Homo sapiens: one gene and its partners. The protein of the gene in region 5 purifies or fractionates together with the protein of the main gene of each other region. This does not show direct contact. Each region holds a gene or a part of one and is shown on either strand. Other genes may lie near its edges. The genes, in order: NOP2, MAGEA9B, CCDC86, NLE1, NSA2, MRTO4 and GNL2.

Region 1 (4,068 bases), on a different chromosome or scaffold from region 5:
CACCACACCAGCTAATTTTCATATTTTTAGTAGGGATGGGGTTTCGCCATATTGTCCAGGCTGGTCTCGAACTCCGGAGCTCAGGTGATCCGCCCACCTTGGCCTCCCAAAGTGCTAGGATTATAGGCATGAGCCACTGTGCCAGGCCAATTTTTTAATTTTTTGTAGATACGGGATCTCCCTATGTTGCCCAAGCTGGTCTCCAATTCCTGGGCTCAAGCAATCCTCCTGCCTCAGCCTCCCAAAGTGCTGGGATTACAGATGTGAGGCACCATACCCAGCCAAAAGGAACAAATTTTTCAAAGTTCTGAGATAACTGCTTTATAAAAAGTGCATTTCTGTGCCCATCAGTGGAGCACACCATTGTCCACCTTCCCATACCTACACCAAGACAGCCTTCTAGATTTTTTTAAATGCTCTATCCTACAGCTCTTTCAAACTTGTAGTGCACTGGGAGGATATAAGGCAGTAGGGAAACAGTGATGGAGCACAAAAACCCCTTTCCTCTAGTCAGGCTTATCCTTGCCACTAAGAAACAGTCTCAAGAATCTGGGAAAGAAACTAAATAGCAAGGATCCTTCTATGAATGCCCAAAAAGATGAATCTCACCGCTTCACCTTCCTCCTCATCCTCAGAGTTGGAGTCAGCTCCATAGTCATCTACCGTATCAGCATCGTCCTCGGAGCCCCAGAGGTCCCCGTGGTTCACCATACCATCTTCTTCAGAGTCTTCCTCCTCCTCTTCCTCATCACTGCCAGGTGCTGGGCGCTTCTTGCCTCGAGGAGCATTAAATAGGGACTGGGGTCCCTTCTTACCAGCTGTCTGGACAGCTCCTGCAGAGATCCCTAAGGGTTTGAAGAGTCCTGGACTAATGGCAGCCACACATTCCCTGGCCCCACACCCTGGGAGCCTGTACTTTCTACCCCTCAGAATGTCCTTTGGCTGTTCCTTTCACTCCGGAAATGTTTAGCGAGTTCTTCCCTACCCAGGACCCAAAGGGACTCCTCATGTAGCATCCAGCTCTTAGTTTCACGGACCTTTTGGTAGCTTTCCAGGCAATGGTTTGGCCTCAGGAGACTTATTTGTCTTAGGGGCTTCAACAGAGCCCAATCTCCTCTTGGCTGCCCTGAAAAGACACAAGAGATTCAAGGAGTGAAGAAATGGGAAGATACTTCCAGGCTCTGCCATTTCCACCATAGGGAAATGTGAGAGTCTAGAATTAACTCTGTGGTCAAAGATGAGCAGTACCAATTTAACCTACTTAAGTTTTGACACCCACACTTACCTCTTTCGAGCACGACTAGACAGCCTCTTGGAATTTTCGTCACTTACTGTTTAAAAAAGAAAAACGAGGCAGAACAAGTTACAGGGGACATTAAAAATAAATGGGAACGGAAATAAACATGGTAAGAGAATTAGTACACTAATTAAAAGGAGTCCATTTAAATCTCAGCCCTGTTATTATTTAATAACTGTATACAAGTTTCTTTTTTTTTTTTGAAATGGAGTTTCACTCTTGTCTTCCAGGCTGGAGTGCAATGGCGTGATCTCAACTCACTGCAACCTCCTTCTCCCAGATTCAAGCGATTCTATTGCCTCAGCCTCCCATCACCACACCCAGCTAATTGTTGTATTTTTAGTAAAGACAGGGTTTCACCATGTTGGCCAGGCTGGTCTCGAACACTGGACCTCAGGTGATCCACCTGCCTCGGCCTCCCAAAGTGTTTCCTTAATAGTGCCTCTCTCACAGGACTCTAAGATGATTAAGCGATATAACATGACCAACAAGTTTAATACAGTGCCCAGGACTTCCTACTATCTCAATAAACTGCATCCTTTATCCAATGCCCAACACAAACTCCCGGTCCAGTGTTACCTCCCACCAGTCTTCCACACAGTATACTACTACTCGGCATGAAGCAGCCAGATCCGTGCTTTTCCATTTCCACCCCTTCCAAAAGGCAAATCAGTGACTGACCCCTCCCCTTCACTACTTCCTCTTGCTACAATGTTACCCATTTTTCAAAACCCAGCTTAACAAAAACTTTTACAGTTCTGCATGGGCTCCCCCTTCCTCTGAACTCACAATTGTTTTAAATCACACTTTTCCCTTGCATGAATAATAGTTGTGTCCGTGTCTTCACATCTCTACGACCTAAACAGTTCCCTACAATCTAAACGGCTGTTTCATTCATACCTCCTAGTAACTCATACAGAGAAGATTCCACTTAAATATAAAATGAACAGAAACTAAAAAAGAGAAGAGGTTATAATACAGAATACTGCAAAAGCTGAGGGATCAGGAGGCCACAACTAATCCTTACCTGCAGGCAAGAATCTGACGAGTTCTGTCTCGGCACCCTTCTGCTTCCGGGCCTTTCGGCCTGGCCCCCGCTTCTCCTTCGTAGGGTCCAACTTGCGCCCCATGGTACTGTGGCAGGCAGAAATGGGAGAAGGTGGCGTCGCGCGTGTCGGAGGGAACGGCAGAACGCACGCTTGGCGTATTATAGTGGGAAAGGGCACAGCCTCAACTCAGCACCCGCAACTCACTCAGCACTCCCGACTCAGCACCCGCGACTCAAGCACCCCCGCTATCCCCCTGGAGGCCCGACCGAACGCCCTCCCACCTGAAACCCAGGTAGCGCACCCTTCTCCCCACGTCCCAGACCAGGTCAGTGCTGCCACTCTTCGTCCCCCAATTTCCTCTAGACCCACCAGAATGCGGGTTAATGTCCGAGAGTGCCCTTCGGGCGGCCCTCCACGTGCAATCCGGACCTAGCTTTCGGCCGGCACTCGCCACAGAATCGTTCCACGCAGGCGCACGGGTAGCGCTAGCCTCGCGGCCCCGCCTCTTCCTGTTGCGCCTAGTCGGCCGCCGCACCCGGAACTTACGCTCGCCCTGGGAACGCCAGCGGAGCCGGCGGCGGCGAGTAGGGGGCAATTCGAAGGAGACGCGCAGCTTACACCCGCGGCGGGTGGAGGGAGCAATGTGACGAAACCATTGAGCTTGACCGACCTTCCCTCATGGAGTTGGCTTTTAGCCTCACGGCCGGTTTCTGTTGGGTGAAAGCCGCACCTTCTCCTCGAACCAGGGCCCGACATTGGAGCCCTCTCCCTCGCATCCACTGCCCTAGTCCAGCGTCAAGATCACGGAATTCCAGGCTGGGCGCAGTGGCTCACGCCTGTAATCCCAGCACTTTGGGAGGCTGAGGTGGGTGGATCACTTGAGGTCAGGAGTTCGAGACCAGCCTGGCCAATATGGTGAAACCCTGCTTCTACTAAAAATACAAAATTAGCCGGGCGTGGTGGCGGGCGCCTATAATCCCAGCTACTCGAGAGGCTGAGGCAGAATTGCTTGAGCCCGGGAGGCGGAGGTTGCAGTAAGCCGAGATCGTGCCACTTAAGCCTCACCAAGAGCGAAACTCCACCTCAAAAAAAAAAAACAAAAAAACCAGCCGGGCTCGGTGGCTCACGCCTGTAATCCCAGCACTTTGGGAGGTCGAGGCGGGCGGATCACGAGGTCAAGAAATCCGAGACCATCTTGGCCAACCTTGTCTCTATTAAAAATACAAAAATTAGTTGGGCATGGTGGCTGGCGCACGCGTGTAGTCCCAGCTACTCGGGAGGCTGAGGCAGGAGAATCGCTTGAACCCGGGAGGGGGAGGTTGCAGTGAGCTGAGATCGCGCCACTGTACTCCAGCCTGGCAACAAAGCGAGACTCCATCTCAAAACAAACAAACAAAAAAAACCGTGGAATTCCATGCCACTTACCTCCTCCTCTTTGCCCCTTTTTTAAAAATCTTTTTATAGAGACGGGTTGTAGGGGGTGGCGTCTCACTATATTGCCAGGGCTGGTCTAGAACTCCTGGGCTTAAGCGATCCTCCTGCCCCCACCTTTGTGCTGAGATTACAGGCTGTGAGCCACCGTGCCCCGCCCTCCCAGCACCTTCCTTGATGCTGACCCCTGCTCAGCCCCTCAATTAAGGTGCTGCACTGCACCTCATTCGCAGGGGGCCTCTTCGCCGGAACTCGCTTTCAGGTGGGTCTACAATTAGTTGGGAAACAACG
Region 2 (4,274 bases), on a different chromosome or scaffold from region 5:
TCAAACCCTTGAGATGAGCAGACATCTCCCTTTACACCAACGCCTCATCCCCCTGAGGGTTCCTCAACTTCCTGCCATGGTACAAATGAGCTTGCCACTTAGCACCATCCTTGATCAGGCCCCCCCCCGCCCCCAGATCTAAGAACAGAGTTCACCTAGACTCTGTGGGGTGGCTTCTTTCTGCGTTGGGGGTACCTCCATTCCTCATGAAGGGGGCACACCTTGGGTCCTGCTGATCCTGGGAGTCCTCCTTCTACTGACCAGGTGTGGAGCCCTCTGTTGGATCTCTCAGTGCCCCCTGGGATCAAGGTACTCACCTCCCTGAGACCTCTCACCCCCAGTCACGTGGGAGAAATGAGAGCATGCCTCATGCCATTCCTGCCTGGGGCCACCTGGGGCTGAGAACAGGTGACACCAGTGTCTGTGAGGTCCTTTCTTTTTTGAGAGCGTGGAGGTACCTTCTTACCTTCAGTCCTCACCAAACTTCCTCCCCGTCACTCCTGGAAGACCCTGGATTCCACCCTGTGCTGACCAGGTGTGGCTCCCTCTGCTGAGCTGAGGAAACCCCTCGGACCAAGGCCCCCACCTCCCGGAGACCCGGGAGGCAGAAGTGAGGGGCCACCTCATGGTCACTCATGCATGAGATACCCAAGGCTGACCAAAGGAGCAGGTTCCAGGGGGCCTCGTCGGTCTGGGTGTCCTCTAGGTATTCATATTTGCTTCTGACAGAATCTGGCCCCTTCCATTTTGCTGAACCAGAGGTGAGTCTTGCAGACCAAGGCCAATTTCTCCCTTAGACCCTCTTTGAGAAAGTGTGTGTTGGGGGTGGAGGGGGCACTTCCCTTCCTCACCGTCCTGCCTGGGGCCTTCCAAGACTGACGGCAGGGGCAGGTTTCCTAGGTCTGGGATGAGAGGTCTGGTGAATCCTTCCTCAGGCCTCTGGGACTCCTCCTTCTGCTCACCTGAGGCCCCACTCCTCATACCACAGCCCTGTTCCCATTGACACCCGATCCCACCAGCCACAATGCACCACATGCGGCCACCGTGCCCGGGATCGCCCAGGCCAAGATCCCCACTGAGCTGGACTCCGGGGTCCCCTCTGTCCTCCGTCTTGTTCCTTCCCTGGTCTCCTAGAGGGCTGGGCCCCACCCCTCTGTGGACCTGAGTCTCTATCTGTCGGATTCCCGAGGCTGAATGAGGAGGGGCCTCGGTCTCAGATAGGGGCGGGGTGGGCCCCTTGTCCTGGGGTACTGGGTCCCCTCAGGCCTCCCTTGTCTCCCAGCAGGACCTGGGCCCTCCCTCTGTTCTCCCGCGGCCACGCTAACGATACCAAGCCCCTTCCCTCGGTCAGCCCAGGATGCAGATATCACGATCCGCTTGCCTGACCGCCATGCCCGGAACTTCCCAGGGTCCACTGCAGGGGCAGTGACTCCCTCTATGGGGCCTCAGCCCTCCCTCAGGGTCCTGGCCCTGATGCCTGGCAGAGCCTGGCCCCTGCCCTCTCTTAACCAGTCCTGCCCTGGTCACACCAAGCTCTGACCCAGAGTCCCCTGGGGCTTAAGTGGTGGGGTGGCGAAGGGTGGCCCACAGCCTGAGAAGTCCGCCCCCGGGGTGGTTCAGGGCTGGCAGCAGGGGTGCTGCTGGATTATTTGGGGCCCTCTATCTGGGGTGGGGGCGTCCTCAGTCCTCCCTCAGCGTCTCATCTTGCCTCCTCACAGAGCCTGGGCCCGCTTCCCTCTGCCGATCTTCAGCCACCACTCAGAACCAAGCCCTTGCTACTCTCTGACCCCCAGTGCGCAAGTCAGAGGCCTTACATCCGGGCACCCGGAGCTTCCCTGGGTTGACAGCAGGAGCCGAACCGGATTCTGCCACGGGAGACTTGGGGGTGGGGTGGAGTGGGGGGGGGGTGAGGATGGAGGTGGGGAACCTGAGGCTGTAGGTCATGGTGGTGGTGGCTGGGTTAGGGGTGTGGAGGCGTTCAGCCCTCCCTCAGGGTTCTGACCTTGATGCCAGTCAGAGCCTGGGCCCAGCCTGATACGCCCGACCCCGCGGGGTGGTCCAGGGCTGGCACAGGGGCGGCGCTGTATTATTTGGGGTCCTCTATCTGGGGCGGGGGGTCTTGAGTCCTCCCTCAGGGTCTCACCTTGCCTCCTCACAGAGCCTGGGCCCGCTTCCCTCCACCGATATCGACCCGCCCCTCACAGCGAGGCCCCCGCTACTCTCTGACCCCCAGTGTGGGAGTCACTGGCCGTACATCCGGGCACCTGGGGCTTCCCTGGGTTGACAACAGGGGCGGAACCAGATTCTGCCGCGGGAGAGTTGGGGGGGTGGGGTGGAGTTTGGGGTGGGGTGGGGTGGGGTGGGGTGGGGTGTAGAGTGGAGCTGAGGATGGGGCTGGGGAACCTGGGGCTGTAGGTCATGGTTGGGTTGGGGGGGCCCAGCCTCCCTCAGGGTCCTGGCCTTGATGCCCGGCAGAGCCTGGGCCCTGCCCTCTCCTAACCAGCCCTGCCCTGGTCACACCAAGCTCTCACTCCAGAGTGCCCAGCAGCTTGAGCGGCGGAGGGAGGGGGTCGGCCCAGCCTCACAAGTCAGCCCCAGATCGGCCCCCGGGTGGTCCAGGGCTGGGAGCAGAGACGGCACTTGGTTCTTTCGGGTCCTCTATCTGGGGTGGGGACATCCTCAGTCTTCCCTCAGCACCTCACCTTGACTCCTCACAGAGCCTCGGCCAGCTTACCTCCACCGGTATCAAGCCGCCCCTCAGAAGGAGGCCTCTCCCTTCTCTCTGACCCCCAGTGCGCACGTCAGTGACGTCACATCCGGCCCCCAAGCCTGGAGCTTCCCTGGGTTGCCAGTAGGGGCTGAACCGGGTTCTGGCGGAGTAGGGGTGGGGATGGGGATAGGGGCCCTCAGTCATCCCTCAGGGGGTCCTGACCTTGATGCCTGGGTCTCGATCCCCATTCTCTGCCCATTGGGTCTGCTCCTCTCGGACCAAGTCTCTGACTCCCAGTCACATGAGGTGGCAGTGAGGGGAGGGGTGTGGTCGGGGTGACAACATTGCCAGGGTCTTCCAGGGCTGACAGGAAGGGCTGAGCTGGATTCTGTGGCCCCTCTATGTGGGGAGGTTGGACCTTCAGTCCCCTCTCAGGAGGGTTCTCCTCCTGGCTCCTGGCTCTTTGATGAAGTGATGTGTGGGAGATGATCTGTTTATGTCACCTTTGAGCATTTGCCCAGCTGCACGCGTTGCAGAGAATGGCTGCGGGTCCCAGGCTAGATGCTCCCTGGGGGGCTGCAGCACCTGTGATTGTAGGACCTGTGAGAGAAGATGCACACCATCCCATGGGGGCTCCTCCCCAGCCAGAGCTAGACTTTGCAAACCTTTTGTCCTAAAAGATTTATTTTTACACGGAAGAGGCTGAGCAGCAGCAAGAGATTTGGAGAAGCCATGTGTTTTGAAGGTATCGAACACAGCAGAGTCCAGATTAGCGATTTTCATATTTTAATTCTCATTCACATGGTAATAAATTTTACACTGTATGTGTACATTATATATGGTATTGTACATTTTGTTTATATCTACGTTTATATACATACCTGTTTTAGACATTATATACATCTATGCTTATATGTATACATACACGCATATATATCTTTATATCTTATATTTACTTACATGTATATATCTTTAGCTACATATTCGTTTGTATTTCTAGACTTTATACTATATATATGCACACATATTTTATTAATATCTACTCATAGTATGTGGCCTTCACACATACTTACTATTCTATTCCTAGTTCATTCTTTATATTCCATTAAAATAATAATTTTTTGGAAGGCTGGTCTTCTCCTACTAAGTTTGTTTCAGGTGGTTGTTAGCAGAACTCTGGAGCCATAGTGTCTCAATCAACTCAAATTTCCTGGTGTCCTGATATTACTCCAGGGCTACTGGCATCAGATTTTGTGGTGCTGCCTCAGATTGCGCGATGATGTGGGGTGGAATGTTAAACACTTTCTCCTATCCATCCTGTAATCTGCCATCTATGCAGGGTACAGACCTCCTCGATTTCCCTGCTGCTCCCTGGACCCAAAACACAAGTACTAGTTTAGCACAGTCTTCAGTCATCCCCAGGGCTTTCTCTGTTTTGATGGGTTTTTTTTTTTAATCTTTTCCCTCCTATATTTTTTCCGGGGTTGATTTGGGGAGCAGAGCACAGCAACCTGAGCTTGGTTGTCACTTTGGCAATGACAGTTAAGGCACTCACTCTGTATTT
Region 3 (3,234 bases), on a different chromosome or scaffold from region 5:
GGGCTTCTCCCCAAGGCCCGCTTCTGGTCCTCCCCCTCCGTCCCTGTCCCTGAGGCTCTTTCAGCAGCCCAGGCTAAACTGTATGGTCCCCTGGGCCTCCCTGCCCTGTAGTCCCAGATTGCACTTCTGCTTCTGGCCAGGTGCCCTTCCTCCCTCCGGCCTTCAGATTCAAGAACGTTTTTTAACCAAGTCGGCCTCCCCCAGGCACCCGTGGAGGCCCTCGCCTCAGGTCTGTACCAGTAGACACTAGCTTAGTCCTCTGAGCCCCAGCCTCAGCCTGGCTGGCCCCTCACCTGGCGGCGCCTCTCCTTCTCCTCCTCCAGGTGACGGGCAAAGTCCTTGGCCAGCTTCCTCTCCTGTCGTTCCTTCATCTTCCGCTGCCACGATGTGCGCAGGGGCTTGTCCTGAAGCATCTGGGAGAATCTGAAAGGGGGAGAGTGGGTGCATACAGGGTCTGTGGGGCAAGCGCCACCCATGCCCTGTCTCCTCTCGGCCGGAGGCTCTGGACCTTCTTCCCCAGAGCCCAGGCAGAACCACCTCCTTGCTGGCCTGACAGGCGGCCTTCCAGGGCTGCAGAAACTTGGGGCGGGAGGGAACCCTGATCGTGCTGGCTGCCATTTCTCAAGCCTTGGCTACATGCCTCTGAGGTGGGTACTCCTATCCTCTCCACTTACAGAGGAGCAGGCCAAGGCGCGGAGAGGTTAAATAGCTGCCTAAAGATACCTTGTGGCAGTCAGGACTTGAATCCTGTCAGCGACTGCAGAGTCCAGGCTACGCGGCCCCTGCTGTAAAGTTCTGTTGCTTCCGCCAAGTGCATTTGGCCCGGGTGTGAATGCCTCTGGAGGCGGGGCGCTCACCCCCTAGGGAGGTGGCCCATTCCATTTCAGAACAGTGTGAGTGGTTAAAGTTCTGGGTAATGATTCAGGATCTTCCCCGCCAAGACCGGATGCAGTGGTCATGCTTGTAATCCCAGCACTTTGGGAGGCCAAGGTGGGCAGACCACGTGAGTCCAGGAGTTGGAGACCAGCCGGGCAAACATGGCAAAACCTACTAAGCCTACTAAAACCTACTAAAGTTTCTACTAAAAATACAAAAATTAGCTGGGTGTGATGGTGTATGCCTATAGTCCCAGCTACTTGGGAGGCTGAGGTACAACAATTGCTTGAACCTGGGAGGTGGAGGTTGCAGTGAGCCGAGATCGCGCCACTGCACTCCAGCCTGGGTGACAGAGCAAGACTCTGTCTCAAAAAAAAAAAAGAAAAAAGAAAAAAGAAAAAGAATCTCTTCCCCCAGTTGGAGATGAAGTGGGCATCAGGGCTCTCAGGGAAATCTGAAAAGAGCAACGATGATTTTAGAGTTACAGGAGAACTGAGCTCATCTCTGTAAAAATGCATACTACAAGGATTTATGAATGGGATGATATGTCTAGGATGTACTTTAAAATATTTCAGGGAAAAAAAAATGCCAAAGATCAGCCGGGCGCAGTGGCTCACGCCTGTAATCCCAGCACTTTGGGAGGCTGAGGTGGGCCGATCACCTAAGGTCGGGAGTTCGAGACCAGCTTGACCAACATGGAGAAACCCTGTCTCTACTAAAAATACAAAATTAGCTGGGTGTGGTGGCACACACCTGTAATCCCAGCTACTTGGGAGGCTGAGGCAGGAGAATCGCTTGAACCCAGGAGGCGGAGGTTGCGGTGAGCCGAGATTGCTCCATTGCACTCTGGCCTGGGCAACAAGAATGAAACTCCGTCTCAAAACAAAAAAAAAGAAAAAAAGAAAAAAAAGCCAAGTATCAAAGATGAAGCTACACTAGTAAAATGCTGAGCTGTGTTGATGCTGATAATGGGGACTTGAGAGCTTTGCTCTTTCTTTGTATGCTTGAAAATTTCCATTCAAAAAAAGTAAAAACAAAATGCAAAGAAGTCTCTCGGTGGCCTCCACATGCTGAAATTAGGTCTTTCTCTTTTAAAGATTCAAGGCCCATTTTGGTGTCCCTTGGCCCTGCCGACTTCTGGCCCCAGCTCCCTGATTTCCTTCTCCCCTTCCCAAGGCCTTGCCACTGAAGGCCTGGCCTCCTAAGCACTAAGAATGGGGTGCCACATGGACTTCCCCCATAACTGTAAAGCTGGGCTTCCCAAGCTGGGGTACGAGAACCCTGAAGGGACAAGGTGTTGGGAGCCTAGAGACACACAGAACCACAAGACACAGTGCTGCATCTGTGTAGAGCAGGGCTGTCAAACAGAACGTTCTGTGATGGTGGAAACATTCCACATTGACACTGTCCAATAAGGTAGCCACTAGTCATGGGTGGCTGCTGAGCGCTAGAAATGTGGTTGGTGTTGATAGAGAAACTGAATCTTAAATTTTATTTAATTTTAATTAATTTAAATGTACATAGCCACATGTGGCTGGCGGCTAAGGTACTGAGGCAGGGCAGTTCCAGACCATTGGTTCTACCTGGGTATTGAGGAAACTCAGGCCTGGGTTCCAAGTCCAACCTGGGTGACCTGGAGCAAGGTAGCCTCTCTAAGTCTCAGCATCCTGTCCAGTGGAGATGAGAATCATTCCTAACCCAAAGGGTGGTGGGAGATTTAATCGACACACACACGTAATAGGTGCTCCATAAATGCTACTCCTCAGAGAAGGCAGACAGCATGCCCAAGGGCACTATGGAGAAAGTGGCGTTTGGCATGAGCACGAAGACAGGGCTGCAGCCAGGTCTCCCTCACCACATACACTTTCCCAGCTGCGGCTGTCTTCCTCCCTGCAGCAGGAGCTGCTTCCCACCCATCTCCAGGCTCACTTACTACCCACCGAAGCTGCTCCCTCAAAGATCCCAAACATCCATTCAGTGGCCCTGCTGGGCCCCTCGCCACAGACTTGCCTGCAGCTTCGGAAGCTGTTTTAGTTCTCTTGAGACAGCCTCCTTGTGGGTTTTCCTGCCTTCACCCCTGCCCGCCTATGTCTGTGTTCAGTAGCCAGGCTGATCTCACAAGTCAGGTCATTTCATTCCTTTGCTTGACACCCTTCCATGGCTCCCAAGCTCACTCAGGAAAGCCGGGAGTCCCTGTAAGGGTCACCAGGTCCTGCTGTCTCTCTGACCTCATCTCCTACTGTTCCCCTTCTCCCCCTCATTCCAGCAGCGAGACCTCTGGAAAGCCTCTCAAACGGGAGCTTGCTCCCGCCTCAATACCTCTGAACATCCCTTTCCTGTTGCCTGGATACTGTTTCC
Region 4 (4,074 bases), on a different chromosome or scaffold from region 5:
CTCCAGATGGACAATGTCAGCATCACTCAGCAAATTGTTACAAATTTAAATTCTCATCTCCCTCCACCACATTTGGGCCTCCTGAGTCAGAAACTGTTGGGGCGGAGCCCAGTAATCTATCTTTTAATAAGTCCTCCAGGGTATTCTAATGCACACCAAGTTTGACAAACACTGGCCTAGATGGAGGAGAAACCAGACAGGAGGCAGCAGGCCCAGAAATCTGCAGTTACAAAATCTCCCTGAGATGCTTAGCCAGGCTTGGCAACCATTGTAGTACAAAGTGTATGGGCTCTGGAGCTATGGGTTTGAACACTGGCTGTCACTTAATTGCCGTATGATGATGGACCAGTCACTTGCCCTCTCTGGACCTAGTCGATAAGATGATCTCTAAGGTCCCTCTCAGCTAACAGAGTCTAGACAGAGTCTAGAACCAACCTTTTTGGCACCAGGGACTGGTTTCATGGAAGATAATTTTTCCATGGATCCGGTTGGGGGGATGGTTTCAGGATGAGTCAAGCATATTACATTTATTGTGTACTTTATTTCTATTATTATTACATTGTAATATATAATGAAATAATTATACAACTCACCATAATGTAGAAACTGTGGGAGCCCTGAGCTTGTTTTCCTGCAACGAGAGGGTCCCATTTGGGGGTGATGGGAGACAATGACAGATCATCAGGCATTAGATTCTCATAAGGAGCATTCAACTTAGATCCCTCCCATACAATTCACAATAGGGTTCACGTGCCTATGGGAATCTAATGCCTCTGCTGATCTGACAGGAGGCAGAGCTCAGGTGGTACCCTGAGCCGTGGGGAGCAGCTGTAAATACAGATGAAGCTTCGCTTGCTCGCCCACCAATCTCCTCCTGCTGTGCTATCCAGTTCCTAACAGGCCATGGACTGCTATCAGTTGGTGGCCCAAGGGTTGAGGACCCCTGGCGTATAAGAAATATGGAATGAGGGTGTACCCTAAAGTGGGTGGGGCTGCCCAGGAGAGTAGTACATGCTTCGGGGCAGGGGTTCCACACTCAGTGCTGCAGTACCTTGCACCTTCCATCTGACCTGCCTGGGCCCCAGCAGGAGCAGGGGATGGGCATGGGACGTCCTGACCCCAGTTGGGAGGGTGAAGGGACAGGAAGGACAGGACATATCTGAGGAAGCCTCGGGGCTCTCTCTTCCCCTAGATTTCCTGGACCTACGCCTTGGGCAAGCAGCCGGTCAGTTTCTACCAGCTCCTGTTACAGGAGGTGGCCAAGACACAGGAGAATGAGTTGCCCGAGGCAAAGAATCGTCCATGGATCTTCAACAAGATTTTGGGCACTACTGTCAAGCTGATGGAGCTAAAGCCTAACACGTGTTACTGCCTCAGTGTCCGTGCAGCCAACACAGCTGGGGTGGGGAAGTGGTGCAAGCCCTACAAAGTGAGCCCTGGGAAAAGAGGGGCCTTGGGGGTGGAGAGAAGTCCAAAGCCAGGGAACCAGGGCTTTGGAGGTTGGGAACACCCCTATGCCCACATGACTCATCTGGCTAGCTTTCCTTCTGCCTGGGTCAAGAAGCATCAATTCCAGAATGCATGCTTCTGGGAGGTTTAAGGATTAAGCCACTCTGGGGCCCACTAGGAATGCAAACGAATGTATTTTTCAACATCACTATAATGTTCCCCTTCCAAAGCCATTGGTTTTTAGACTCTGCAATTCAGTGCCCATGATTGTGAGTAGGCTGGGAAGTCAAGGGCATTGAAAGAAATAGGGAAGACAAGAGGCTAAAGGGGGACGAAGAAGGGAACAGCCTGGGTATGGGGTAGGGGTATGGGGGTATAGAGGCCTGAGTACAGACAGCCCTTTGGTTGGAAATATCCCATAATGAGGAGGTACAGGCTTGAGTCATGCATCTTTGCACCTGTTTCCTGCGTCAATGGCTAGGTTGGATAAGGCTGTTTAAGGTCTGAGTCAGCAGACAGAAAAAAAAGGGGTGATAGAGACAGAGAGAGAGCCAGGTTCAGATCTGGGAAGGAACTCTGAAGGGTTTTCTTGTTTCACTTCAGTTTGCAACCCTGGCCACTGACTTCAGCAGCTTTCCTGAGAACTACCCCATCCAGATCACCGTGCGGCGCAAGGAACCCCGGCAAAAGATCGTGTCCATCGGGCCGGAGGAGATGCGGAGGCTGGAGGATCTGGAATACCTATTTCCCTGTTAAGGGGGAGGGCCCCAGGACACCCCTCACCTACTTTCAGCTTCAACCCCAGGCCCTCAGAAACCAGAGCCATGAGACCTACCATACCACCAGCACCCTGCGGGCCCGGGGTCTGGCAGAGTGGTATGGGCACCCCACCCCTGGGCTGGGGCCAAGGCTACATAGGGGCCCCATTCACCTGGAGGCATCTCAGGCCAGGCCATGCCAGGCTCAGCCACTGCCCACAGCTGCTAGACTCCCTCCTCCTCCAAATCTGGGCTGGGTCTAGGTCCCTCATTAAAGAACTGCAGGTCATCCAGCACCCTAAAGTCTGCTTTATGCTGCAGACAGCCTCAGATGGGCTGGCTGGCACCCACCTCCTAGCTTCCACCAGGACAGAGTCTACATGGGTGGGGAGATAGAAAACAGGCAGCTAGGCAATAGGATGCTGCCATCACCCCTTCCCCAGTGGGGCGGGGTAGGGGAACAGGGAGACTGGTGCTCTAAGACTAAAAGGCTCTTACACCAGAAAAATACAGAAATAGCTGTCATGGACAGACGTGGTGGCCCATGAACTGTCAAACTAGCTTGAGCTCTGGACGGAGGGATGTGGTACAAAGTGCACAATAAGCTTTGGGGCAGGGCCTGGTTTAATCCCAGCTTTCTCTTACTAGATGTGAGGGCATGGGCTAATCATTTCTTATGTTGTTTCCTCATCAAAAGTTTTGGAGCTTGAGAACCTTCCAGGCCTGGTGCAGTCTGAGAGCACAGCAGACAAACAGCTGGCACCAAGGAGCTCAGTGGCTGATAGTTTTGTTCGCTTCTTATGTAGCCTCACTGCAGATATGTGCAAGGTGGAGGCCAAGCACCACAGCTAGGTGACGCGCAAAACCCAAAAGCACAGACAAGGGTGGAGGAGGGTAAGAAGGAGCAAGATGCTAGTTCTGAGCAGTTTATACAAGGATGGTTTGGAAATCCAATCTGAGTAGTTCAGACCATGACCCTGCTTAGCATGGGATGCAGGAGAAAGCAGAGGCAGGGTACATTCAGGGCAAGATCTCGGCCTGGGGTCTGAGTCCTGATGGGAATTCCTTTCACTGCTTGAAAGTTCTCGTGGCAAAGAACTTCCTCTGTATCAACAATACCCACTTCTGCTCAGAGCTCATACTGCTGCCTCCCCATCTGAGGGAATCCTCTGGAAGAGCCATCACCTTCCCCGCTCTATCCCATGGGCCCAGGGCAGTGCTTGGTGCCTGGCAGGGCCTCAAGCAGTGTGCTATGCGAAGGCAGAGGCATCCCCTGGAGCAGGGCTGACCAGCAGAACTCTCTTGATGATGAAAACCTTTCTGTGTGCTGTCCAATACTGGAGGCCTTACCCAGTGCGATGGAGGAACTGCACTTCTATTTCATGCCAGCAGTCACATGTGGCCGGTGCCTACTGCAGTGGACAACAATACAGCCCTAGATTCTCCTTGGCCACTATCACAACTGGCCTCTCTCTTACCAACACGGGGGAAGAGAGGGAAGGCAAGTGCCTGGTCAGTGTGGTTTTGGCGTAGTCCAGTGCAAGGGCGGGGGCTGGACAATCTCATTTAGCACAGTCCTTGATTGAGTCATGGGGATTCTAGGACAAGGAATTAGAACCCAACACACAAAACTTAAGTTACTTATTTGGTCATAGAACCTGGGATCTGACCCTGTACAGAGCTGACACTAGGGGCCCACTCATAGAGCCTGGCTGCCCACCACCCCTGTCTGTACCAGCAAGGTACAGAGTAGCAGACACGGGCCAAGTTCAGTGACAACTTCCTGTGACCTTCGATTTCTGGCTCTGGGGTGTGCCACAGGCGGGGATCTGTGGGAAAACCCCATTCCGGTCTATCGAGGACAGCA
Region 5 (3,500 bases):
TCTTAAAGAAGCTAACAAAATATGTTTTACAGAGTAAAAAGCTGATGGTTACAGTATAAATATGTGGGGAAAACACCCACACAAATACTTAAGAATTTCTTTTTCTTTTGAGACAGGGTCTTGCCCAGTTGCCCACGCCAGAGTGCAGTGGCGTGATCTTGGCTCACTGCAGCTTGGACTTCTTGGGCTCAAGACATCCTCCCACCTCAGGCTCCTGAGTAGCTGGGACTACAGGCACGCACCACCATGCCTAGCTTATTTTTTTTTTTTTTTTTTTTGGTAGAGATGGGGTTTCGCCATGTTGCCTGCTGGTCTTGGACTCCTGGGCTCTCAACGTATCCACCCACCTCAGCCTCCCAAAGTGCTGGGATTACAGGCCACCACAGCTAGCCTCTGAAAAGTTTTTTTTTTTTTCACCCTGTAATAGCTACCTAGCAACATACCCAGATTTTTACTGTCTAGTCATCTACACTTAGACTTACTAAGGACTTTATATATACCAGGCCACTATGCTAGCTCACAACTGGCTCACTTAAACACAATAACCTCACAACAAACACATCCCCTCTCCTCTGTTTTCAAATGATGTAACAAGGATCAGCAGGTTAAATGACTTGTTTCCAGATTAAATGGTGAGTGGTAAACAGACTCAAACCTTAATATCCTGATTCCAAGTCTTTATATAACTCGGCTACCTTCCATGATGAAAAAAGGAGTGGACTGTCAGCTTTCTTTAGGTTGATGGCAATATGAGACTGGAGGAGACCCAGAGGAGTCTTTGTTACAGAAACTGGTTATGGAGTCACCCAGTCACCTAATAAGGTCTTTTAGGGTGTAGTACTTTAAACGTCACAACATTTTGCAGTCTTCATTTTTGTGTGCATGGGGATGGGGGGAAAAAATCACTAAATCAGTTTCTTAGTAACAGACTCATTAATCAAGCTTGTAAGAAACTGACACCATTCAGGATGCCATCTGATTATAATGACAAATCTGTGAAACTACAGAAAACCTAGAATAGCCTGACTTGTATATTCTCTCCCTGTAGAACTGTTAAGGCTACCAAAATATATTCAGACTATGAATATGAAACCAAAACAAGTCGAGTCCATGATATAATCCGGGGTGGGCAAACATTTTGTGTAAAGAACCCAATAGGTAAACACTTTAGGCTTTGTCAGGCCATATGGCCTCTGTTGCAACTGCTCAATTCTAGGGGTAGGGGTTATGCAATATGTAAATGAACAGGCATGACTGTGTTCCATTAAAATTTTATTTACAGAAACAGGCTATTTGCCAATATTTTAATCTATTAAAAATTACTCACGTTGGCCGGGCACGGTGGCTCATGCCTGTAATTCCAACACTTTGGGAGGCTAAGGCGGGCGGATCACGGAGATCGAGACCATCCTGGCTAACACGGTGAAACCCCGTCTCTACAAAAAAATACAAAAAAATTAGCCGGGCGTGGTAGCGGGCACCTATAGTCCCAGCTACTCGGGAGGCTGAGGCAGGAGAATGGCGAGAACCCGGGAGGCGGAGCTTGCAGTGAGCCGAGATCGTGCCACTGCACTCCCGCCTGGGATACAGAGGGAGACTCCGTCCCAAAAAAAAAAAAAAAAAATTACTCAGGTTGAACACTAGGATTATGGCATGTTGCAACTTTCCTCTCTCTGATACTTTGTTTTTTTGAGGCTGTGTATCTAACTGGGAGAATAGTTCAGTCTCTTTGAAGGGATTTTGCAAAAATATATCTTCAACTATGTTTCTCCCCAGGGGTGGGGAAGTTTGGGGTCACATTACTATTGCTGCCTTCAACAGAAATTAAGCTATATTAAATTATCTTCCTTTTTTCAAAGATTTTCTTTTTCTTTTTTTCTTTTTTTTTTTTTTTTGAGACAGAATCTTGCTCTGTCCCCCAGGCTGGAGTGCAGTGGCATGATCTCCACTCACTGCAAGCTCTGCCTCCCAGATTCACGCCATTCTCCTGCCTCAGCCTCCCAGGCAGCTGGGACTACAGGCGCCCGCCACCATGCCCGGCTAATTTCTTGTATTTTTTTTTTTTAGTAGAGATGGGGTTTCACAGTGTTAGCCAGGATGGTCTTGATCACCTGACCTCGTGATCTGCCTGCATCGGCCTCCCAAAGTGCTGGGATTACAGGCGTGAGCCACCGCGCCCGGCTTTTCAATGATTTTCAAAAGCATTTAGATACTTTCCTTATCAAACTGGAATTGACTCTTATAAAACAGTCCTACTCAAGTTTTCGAACTGCTGTCAAAGACAAGAAGTGTTTTGAGACCTAGACAATATCAGGCATATTGTAGATCACTAGTTTAATGAGGAAAATATGACTGTGGAAAATGAAGATTCTAATATGTCATGTTTAAAAGTCAGAATTCACTGACAATGTCTTATGATACTACTTTTTCAAATCTCTCACGAAGCTGAAAAGATTTTTTTTTTTTTTGAGACGGATTTTTGCTCTTCTTGCCCAGGCTGGAGTGCAATGGCGTGATCTCAGCTCACTGCAACCTCCGCCTCCCAGGTTCAAGCGATTCTCCTGCCTCAGCCTCCCTAGTAGCTGGGATTACAGGCGCCCGCCACCACGCCCAGCTTATTTTTTGTATTTTTTAGTACAGATAGGGTTTCACTACATTGGCCAGGCTGGTCTTGAACTCCTAACTTCAGGTGATCCACCCACCTCAACCTCCCAAAGTGCTGGGATTACAGGTGTGAGCCACCGCACTGGGCTAAAGATTTTTGACTAGTGGAAAAAGTACTAAATAACTTCTGTCAATAAAATAACAAAAATTGCATAAAAATATCTTTCAACCTGTTCCACATCAATTTAAAGAATTTCAGGAAATGATAATGTTCTTTATCCGATTTAATAAAGTCAACTAACATTTCGGTCATTACACTCTTCCAAGGACTTACCATTGGCCTGATGAATCTTTCATATTTAGGTGGTTTTCTTGTAAAGCCATCTCCAACAAAGCACACTTTAGTAACCATTCTCTTCCATGCCTTCTTCTTTCTCTTTCCTGTTCGAATAACTTTTAATACTTCTGTTTCTCCCTGGGCACGTACTTTAGGCAGAGGGACTTCCCATTTTCCCTAAAAATATGCCACAGTTAAAAGTTTATATTGTTATTAAAGGACAATGAGAATAAGTCAAATATGTTTTAGTTGTACAAAGTAATAGATCTATTTTTTTTGCTTGACCATCAACACATTTTTGGCTCAACCGTCTTCTAGAGGTCTGTATTGTCTCATAAGCTGCAAATTAAACAGAACAAGTTTATATATCATGGGTATGTTAAATAAATGGTTGGCTTAAGCTAAAAATCTTAATGCTGTGTTATGGGTGAGAAAATACCACCTGTAATGTGGTGGTTTTTTTTTTTTTTTTTTTTAGATGGAGTCTCGCTCTGTTGCTCAGGCTGGAGTGCAGTGGTACAATCTTGGCTCACTGTGCAGCCTCCGCCTCCTGGGTACA
Region 6 (3,972 bases), on a different chromosome or scaffold from region 5:
GATAACGCTTAATGACTGCATTCAATGAGCCAGGCATTGTGCTAAGTAATTTAATGGGATTGTCTCATTCATTCTCACAAGTACTGTAAGAGATAACGGACTGTTAGTAAACCCATTCTACAGACAAAGAAACCAAGGCACAGAGTGGTTAAGTCACTTTCCCCAAGATCACACAAGTCTTAACTAGTAAAATTCAAACAAAAGCAAGCTACTCCAGGGCCTTAAGGAAGACGTGGGTGGGTGAATGAATGAATGAGTGAATGGCATATTCTAGCTGCTTAGTGTTTTGGGCAATCCTGCTGTGAGCCCAGGGCCAGACTAGGTTGATGAGAGGGGAAAAGGACTCAGTTTAGGACTTTTAAGACGAAAGCTCCTGTTCACTTGCCTACAAGACACCAATTCGAGTAGGAATTAAAGTTCACTGACAGCTTGGCGACCTCTGACACCTGGTAGACCAGAAACCTCACAGTCAAAAAAATCGAACCTGACGAGGGAGGACGGGATCAGTGATCTCTGACCGGCACCCCAAGCATTCCTGGATGGCAGGGCCGGCTTACACGCAAGGATCAGCTTAGAATGACCCCTAACACTTGGTTTAAGGCTCTGCTTCCAACGACTTTAAATCCTTAATAATTTTTTAACAAGGGGCCCCACGTTTTCATTTTGTACTGGGTCCTGCAAATTATGCGGCCAATCCTGTTAAGTGACAACCTTTAGCAGGTAGGAGACAGGTACTGGGGAAACAGCCACTTATCTCTCGAATATGTTCCACACGTACGCACCAATCAAACTTGCCCACTTGGTCTTCGTAGACCGCGGCCGCAGGAATCAGCAGCGTAGCCCAAAGCCAGAAACGAGAAGCCCACTCAGCCGCCATGATGCGAGCGCATGCACCACCCACCGCCGTCCCGGCATGCACCGCGCCGCGGGCTCCGCCTCCGCGGGACCACAGAGCTGGGATAGCGCGCGAGGCCCTCGGTCGGACGGGACGCTCGGGATTCAGGGACTGCCTCGGCACACGGGAAGTTGCCCTACAGGCGCGGGAGAAAGCGCAGGCGGCGGCTTGGCAGGGAGAGGCAGGCTGCAGTGCACATTGGGTCAGGCACACGCGAGGGGCAGCCCCCGAGGGCCGTCCCAGAGTCCCCCGCGCCGCCGGGGTCCTAACGGGGTGCACCGTCTTCCGCCGCACGTGGATTCAGCGCGATGCCCAAATCCAAGCGCGACAAGAAAGGTGGGCGAAGGGGGAGTCGGGACCCTGGGGGGAGCTCCGTGGGCTGGCTACCCAGCCTGCGGTGAGGGCTTCGGGGCGGCGGGGGCGCAGATTGGAACGCCAGGACATCCTCGAGGTGTTCCGCTGCCTCGCTGCGAGCTGGAATGGGGGCTTCGGGGCTGTAAAACCGCCAGAGGTGGCTGACGCCCGGTCGGGTCTGGGGAGCGGAGACTCGTTTTGCCTAGTTTCAGGTGCTCTTGCAAGGCCAACTGGGTCGGGAGGCAGCTCCTGAACACCGCCCCCGGCTATGCCTGCTGCCGTTTCGGCCCACTTTTCCCAACTTCGGCCCTTTCTCATCTTCCTGCGCTCCCGCCACCCTGGCTGCCTTTCCCTTCTTTCAGCACAGGTTTGTTCCCGTGTCTGGCGTTGTGTGTCTGCGGTTGTTTCTGCCTGGCATGCTTACATCTTCGTATGGTTTGCGCCTTCTTAGTTGTCAGTTAATAGGATCCCTCTGAGACAGGGTCTCGCTCTGTTGCCCAGGCTGGAGTGCAGTGGCGCGATCGTAACACTGCAGGCCGGATGCGGTGGCTCACGCCTGTAATCCCAGCACTCTGGGAGGCCGAGGCGGGCGAATCATCTGAGGTCGGGAGTTCCCGACCAGCCTGGCCAATATGGTGAAACCCCTTTTCTACTAAAAATACTAAAAATTAGATGGGCATGGTGGCAGGTGCCTGTAATCCCAGCTACTTGGGAGACTGAGGCGGGAGAATCGCTTGAATCCGGGAGGCGGAGGTTGCAATGAGCCGAGATCGCTCCACTGTACTGCAGCCTGGGCACGACAGAGCGAGACTCCGTCTCAAAAATAAATAAATAAAATAAGTCACTGCAGCCTTGACCTCCTTGGCTTAAGCGATCCTCCCACCTCAACCTCCCGAGTAGCTGAGACTACAGGCGCACGCCACCACACCCAGCTAGGTTTTTTTTGTTTATTTTTTATAGAGAAGACTCAGTGTGTTGCCAAGCTGGTCTCGAACACCTGGGCTCCAACCACCCTCCCTGAGTGCTGGGATTACAGGCGTGAGCCACTACACCCGACTTGCGCACCTCTTAAGAGACCGTTTTTGACCACCTTTGCTGTGGTGGCCTCTCTCTTAACCCGGCTCCCTGGAATATTCAAAAATATTTAGGGGTCTGGCACTTTCTAGGCGTTAGAGGATACAGCAGTCACAAGGAAAGCCTATTTCTTATCGAGCCTAACGTTTTAGGAGAAACATATTCCGCAAAATGCTAAAAATCAGATTGAAAATGGGGTGAAGAGATGTTGATATTTTGTATAGTGTGGTCGGGAAAGGTCTCACTGATGAAGTGACAAATGAGCAGAAAATAAAGAAAGGAAGCGAGCAACCTGTGGAATTGAGCAGCTGTGGAATTATCTGGGAGAATGCTGTTCCAAGTAGAGGGAACCTGAAGTGAAAAGGCTCTGAAATGGGAGCAGATATGACGTGTTTGGGACAAGAGGCCAGTGAGGCTGGAGCAGAAGGAGCCAAATAGAGTTTGGGGAGGGAGTTAGGCAGAGAGGGCAGGACTTCCTCGGCCTTGGCAAGGCATTGGCTTTCCTGCCCAGGTGAAGTGAGTAGCAGAGGACCCATGTGATTTACCTTTACTTATGAAGGGTCACTCTGGTTGCCTTGGTGAGAATAGTTGGGGAAGACAGGGCAGAGGGCAGGAATGGAAGCAGTGAGACCAGCATTAATCCAAGACAGGGTGATGCTGGCTTGAGCCAAAGGTATAACAGTGGAAATGATGGGAAGTGGCCCGCTATATTTCGTTTGCCCTCCTCTGCTCCACTTACCATTGACTGATGTCATTGTCTTTGTCTGTGTGGTACCTAGTTAAGAGGGGCTGAGTGCGGGCAGGTTAAAGAAGAGAGGCCTGGGTCCCTTTGTGAAGGCGCCCGGGGCTTTGCAGTTGGAGTTCTGTTAAGTGTTTCTGGAACGATTTGATTCTGTGGAGGGGCCTGGGTCAGGTCTGGCAAATGCCAAACTCTGTGGGTAGAGGGCAAATTGGGCCCCAGCCATTTTTACAGTAGAGGTACATGTTCCTCCCCAGAGAGGTGTTGCTGCGTCTTTGGGTCCAAATTGCAATACTGGGGTGCAGATACATACCAGGAGATTCAGTCCCCAGCCTCATGGTTGCACAGCATAGGCCAGCTAGAGTGGCCTCTGCATCATGGTCAAGAGCAGCAAGGGGCCAGGCATGGTGGCTCACACCTATGATTCCAACACTTTGGGAGACTGAGGTAGGCAGATCTCTTGAGCCCAGGAGTTCGAGACCAACCTGGGCAACATGGCAAAAGCCATCTCTGCAAAAAATACAAAACTCACCTGGGCATGGTGGTGCATTTCTGTGGTCCCAGCCAAAATTAGCAGGCCATGGTGGTGTGTGCCTGTAGTCCTGTGTGGGAGGATTGCCTGAGCCTAGGAGCTCAAAGTTGCAGTGAGCCCAGATCGTGCCATTGCAGTCCAGCCTGGGTGACAGAGTGAGACCCCATGTCAAAAAAAAAACAAAAAACAGGGGCCTGCCTCAGCCAGCAGGTGAGGTCTGCCACTGAGAGCACTTCTAGCAGCAGGAACAGCCTCCACCCCCACACTGCAATCAAGTTTTTTGGGTCAGCCTTAGGAGCTAAGAAAGGCCTAGTTTGTCTAAATAGCAGGAGTTATATCCAGGGATCTTCAGGCCCAGGAATGCTAATGAGTAGGCAT
Region 7 (3,500 bases), on a different chromosome or scaffold from region 5:
GTGAGCCATGATCGCACCACTGCACTTCAGCCTGGGTTAAGACAGAACAAGACCCTGTCTCAAAAAAATTTTTAAAGTAAAAGAAAAAATTTTTAAGCGTGACTGTAGCAGAAAACACAAAAAAACCCACAAAAATTTGGAGGTAACAGAATCAATGCAGACAGGAAAATTTCAAAACGTCATTAATGATACTGTGACTGTGAAATAAGATGTAAAAGGAGGCAGAGCAAATCAGAATTCAACAAGAGCTCTCAGAAATTAAAAATTAAAAGCAATTGGCAAAATAAATTTTGTGACTGGGCAGCTGGATGATCAAAACAAGGAAAGTGGCCGGGAGCAGTGGCTCACGTCTGTAATCCCAGCACTCTGGGAGGCCGAGGGGGGCGGATCACCTGAGGTCGGAAGTTTGAGACCAGCCTGACCAACACGGAGAAGCCCCGTCTCTACTAAAGATACAAAATTAGCCAAGTGTGGTGGCACATGCCTGTAATCCCAGCTACTCGGGAGGCTGAGGCAGGAGAATTGCTTGAACCTGGGAGGAGGAGGTTGCAGTGAGCCGAGATCGCGCCATTGCACTCTAGCCTGGGCAACAAGAGCAAAACTCTGTCTCACAAAAAAAAAAAAGTACCCAGAAAATAGAGGAAAATGTCATATATGTACCAAAAGAAAAAATATATAGGCCAGGTGCAGTGGCTCATGCCTGTAATCCCAACACTTTGGGAGGCTGAGGCGGGCGGATCACGAGGTCAAGAGATCAAGACCATCCTGGCTAACATGGTGAAAACCCGTCTCTACTAAAAATACAAAAATTAGCTGCGCGTTGTGGCGTGTGCCTGCAGTCCCAGCTACTCGGGAGGCTGAGGCAGGAGAATCGCTTAAACCCGGGAGGCGGAGGCTGCAGTGAGCCGAGATCACACCACTGCACTCCAGCCTGGTGACAAGAGTGAGACTCTGCCTCAAAAAAAAAAAAAAAAAAAAAGAAAGCAAATATAAATCAAGAATTAAACCAGGAGGTAAAAGCAAATTTCTGAACAAGAATACAGACAACTGAGGGAGGAAAGAAAATTTCAAAGAAATAATGTAAGACAATATCAGACTAAAGTCTCATCAAACGCCAAGCTCACTGAGCAATAAAAGGCCCACTTCAAGACACACCACTGTGAAATTTTAGAACAAGAGAAATTTTAAATTTTAGAATAAGAAAAGATTGGCTGGGCGTGGTGGCACACACCTGTAATCCCAGCACTTCAGGAGGCCAAAACGAGGCAGGAGGATCGCTTGGGCCTAGGAGTTTGAGGTTACAGTGAGCTGTGGTTGTGCCACCACACTCCAGCCTGGGTGACAAAGCAAGACCCTGTCTCAAAACAAGAAATCACAGCCACACAAAGTATGAGGGGTCAGAATGGCCTCAGATTCCTCAGAATTCAGAAGACAGTGCAGTGGTAACCTCAGTATTCTGAGGAAAAACAGCATAAAGGGTAGAATAAAGATCTTAATAAAGATATTTTCAGAACGCAAGGCGTATCTCAAAAAAATGTTCTTTCCAAGTATTCCTTCTCAGGAAACTTTTGGAAAATATGTCCCATGGAAAGAAAGGAGTAAACCAGAAAAGAAGAAAAGAGGTCCTATAAATAAGAGGTCCCATACAGGAAAACAGCCATGGGAATTCTCTGGATGACAGTGAAAGGAAATCCCAGAAAGACGACGCTGCAGCAGCCTGGAGAGCGGCCAGCCCTGCGGAGGACGGAGTGCTGGCCACCGAAGGGAACTACCTGTGCTGCCTGGAAGCTCTGACAGTTCCCACTGTATCAGAGAATTTGGTAGTATGATAGTGACAGATACAAATAGAACACAGCAAAGTAACACTAGCGAAAATAAAAGCTTCGATCAGAAAGGAATTATACTCATAGCACACCATGTGGATCAGCTGTGACTAATATTTTACAGTCATGACAATGTAAAGACTGAATGGCCAAGACTACTCTTCCCAGCCTGTTAGAGTGGCCACCCTGCAGGCTGCAACCCTTTATGAGAAATAAAGCTCTCCTTTCCAAGTTAAAACAACAACAACAACCAACCAACACTGAATGAATAATACTGTAACCCAACATTGGCATCTAACAATACAGGGGGAAGTACATACAGAGAGAGGATGGCTATAAGATAGCAAATCCTCATTTTCCATAGTAAGAAATTAATAAGCATCTTAAACTGGGGGTGAGGGGTGGGCACAGATCAAGAAAATCATAAGCATGTACTAAAAATATGGAGGAAAATAACAGAACTAATGGCTATTGGAAGCATTTGCTTCTGTAAAGTGGGGAAGGGTGGGACAGCAGACATGTGTCTTTTGTTAGAAGCCAGGTAGAATTAACTAAATAGACAAATTCAAAATGACAGGTACAGAACATGAAGCTTTAAGAATTTGATAGGGTAGTCTGGTTCCACGGCTTCCCTCAGGAGCTGACGTCTGACCAGGGATCTGAAGCTTGAATTTTGGCAGGGCCCTCTCCAACCAGAGGACATAGAAGCTGCATGGGCTCCATGGGCAGAGGATGCACAGCAGGCCTGGAAAGCCCAGCAGAGCGTGGAACGTCAGGTGCCAGGGCTGTGGCAGAAATGGAAGCAACACTGGTCACGGATGGGGGCAAAGGCTGAGCAAGAAAACACTTCAGAATCTCTTATAATCCTGATGCTCTGTGAGTTTTTACATCTCTGGAAGTTTTTACATCTTCTTCTTCTTTTTTTGAGAAGTCTCGCTCTGTCGCCCAGGCTGGGGTGCAGTGGCGCAATCTCGGCTCACGGCAAACTCCGCCTCCCAGGTTCAAGCGATTCTCCTGCCTCAGTCTCCCCAGTAGCTGGGACTACAGGCGTGTGCCACCATGCCTGGCCAATTTTTGTATTTTTAGTAGAGACGGGGTTTCACCATATTGGCCAGGCTGGTCTCAAACTCCTGACCTTGTGATCTGCCTGCCTCGGCCTCCCAAAGTGCTGGGATTACAGGTGTGAGCCACCGCGCCCGGCCACATCTTTTTTTTTTAGAGGCAGGGTTTTGCTCTGTTACCCAGGCTGGAGTGCAGTGGTGCCATCATAGCTCACTGTAGCCTTGATCTCCTGGGCTCCAGCAATCCTCCTGCCTCAGCGTCCTGAGTAGCTAGGACTACAGACCTGCGCAACCACGTCCGGCTAAGAAGTTGGCAACTTTCTGCTATGCCATGGCAAGACAGATTCTTATACCAACTCACAGCTACACAACTCCAGGAGAAACAGATCAGGGCTCAATACCTTTCCAAACTGCCGCAGAAGCTGAATGAATGCTCCCTTGCCAAACGGGTTAGTAAGGCTTGCATGGAAAGCAAGTGTTGGATAATCCTGGGAGAGGACAGCAACCCACCGTTTCTAGAAGGAGAGATGAAAACATTTTGGTAAACTGCAGTACATTTATTTACATTATGTGGAAGAATCAGAGCTTGAATTACAGAACTGTTTCAAATATACTG

What was found.
Region 1: the proteins of NSA2 (region 5) and NOP2 purify together in Homo sapiens (affinity purification with mass spectrometry; 2 studies listed by BioGRID and IntAct, with this or other methods). This does not show direct contact.
Region 2: the proteins of NSA2 (region 5) and MAGEA9B purify together in Homo sapiens (affinity purification with mass spectrometry, with the first as the bait; 3 studies listed by BioGRID). This does not show direct contact.
Region 3: the proteins of NSA2 (region 5) and CCDC86 purify together in Homo sapiens (affinity purification with mass spectrometry; 3 studies listed by BioGRID and IntAct, with this or other methods). This does not show direct contact.
Region 4: the proteins of NSA2 (region 5) and NLE1 purify together in Homo sapiens (affinity purification with mass spectrometry; 4 studies listed by BioGRID and IntAct, with this or other methods). This does not show direct contact.
Region 6: the proteins of NSA2 (region 5) and MRTO4 purify together in Homo sapiens (affinity purification with mass spectrometry; 3 studies listed by BioGRID and IntAct, with this or other methods). This does not show direct contact.
Region 7: the proteins of NSA2 (region 5) and GNL2 purify together in Homo sapiens (affinity purification with mass spectrometry; 4 studies listed by BioGRID and IntAct, with this or other methods). This does not show direct contact.

What each region holds. Positions count from the first base shown.
Region 1 is NC_000012.12:6,565,492-6,569,559, forward strand, and holds the start of NOP2 (28S rRNA (cytosine(4447)-C(5))-methyltransferase), read right to left. Parts: upstream 2,801-4,068; 5' UTR 2,716-2,800; exon of another isoform or gene 2,648-2,715; intron 2,432-2,647; 5' UTR 2,428-2,431; coding exon 2,325-2,427; intron 1,332-2,324; coding exon 1,286-1,331; intron 1,127-1,285; coding exon 1,038-1,126; intron 846-1,037; coding exon 610-845; intron 1-609. UniProt on the Homo sapiens protein: S-adenosyl-L-methionine-dependent methyltransferase that specifically methylates the C(5) position of cytosine 4447 in 28S rRNA. Required for efficient rRNA processing and 60S ribosomal subunit biogenesis.
Region 2 is NC_000023.11:149,584,660-149,588,933, forward strand, and holds the start of MAGEA9B (melanoma-associated antigen 9), read right to left. Parts: upstream 2,801-4,274; 5' UTR 2,735-2,800; exon of another isoform or gene 2,703-2,734; intron 2,247-2,702; exon of another isoform or gene 2,144-2,246; intron 1-2,143. UniProt on the Homo sapiens protein: Not known, though may play a role in embryonal development and tumor transformation or aspects of tumor progression.
Region 3 is NC_000011.10:60,845,113-60,848,346, reverse strand, and holds part of CCDC86 (coiled-coil domain-containing protein 86), read right to left. Parts: intron 424-3,234; coding exon 294-423; intron 1-293.
Region 4 is NC_000017.11:35,128,230-35,132,303, forward strand, and holds the end of NLE1 (notchless protein homolog 1), read right to left. Parts: 3' UTR 2,206-4,074; coding exon of another isoform or gene 2,053-2,205; 3' UTR 1,430-2,052; coding exon of another isoform or gene 1,193-1,429; 3' UTR 501-1,192; downstream 1-500. Other genes in the region: FNDC8 (fibronectin type III domain-containing protein 8), read left to right, coding at 1,193-1,429, 2,053-2,205. UniProt on the Homo sapiens protein: Plays a role in regulating Notch activity. Plays a role in regulating the expression of CDKN1A and several members of the Wnt pathway, probably via its effects on Notch activity. Required during embryogenesis for inner mass cell survival.
Region 5 is NC_000005.10:74,770,249-74,773,748, reverse strand, and holds part of NSA2 (ribosome biogenesis protein NSA2 homolog), read right to left. Parts: intron 3,119-3,500; coding exon 2,939-3,118; intron 1,437-2,938; coding exon of another isoform or gene 1,377-1,436; exon of another isoform or gene 1,256-1,376; intron 1-1,255. UniProt on the Homo sapiens protein: Involved in the biogenesis of the 60S ribosomal subunit. May play a part in the quality control of pre-60S particles.
Region 6 is NC_000001.11:19,250,633-19,254,604, forward strand, and holds the start of MRTO4 (mRNA turnover protein 4 homolog), read left to right. Parts: upstream 1-1,172; 5' UTR 1,173-1,203; coding exon 1,204-1,231; exon of another isoform or gene 1,232-1,616; intron 1,617-3,972. Other genes in the region: EMC1 (ER membrane protein complex subunit 1 isoform 5 precursor), read right to left, coding at 783-877. UniProt on the Homo sapiens protein: Component of the ribosome assembly machinery. Nuclear paralog of the ribosomal protein P0, it binds pre-60S subunits at an early stage of assembly in the nucleolus, and is replaced by P0 in cytoplasmic pre-60S subunits and mature 80S ribosomes.
Region 7 is NC_000001.11:37,578,938-37,582,437, forward strand, and holds part of GNL2 (nucleolar GTP-binding protein 2), read right to left. Parts: intron 3,400-3,500; coding exon 3,286-3,399; intron 2,609-3,285; coding exon of another isoform or gene 2,405-2,608; intron 1-2,404. UniProt on the Homo sapiens protein: GTPase that associates with pre-60S ribosomal subunits in the nucleolus and is required for their nuclear export and maturation.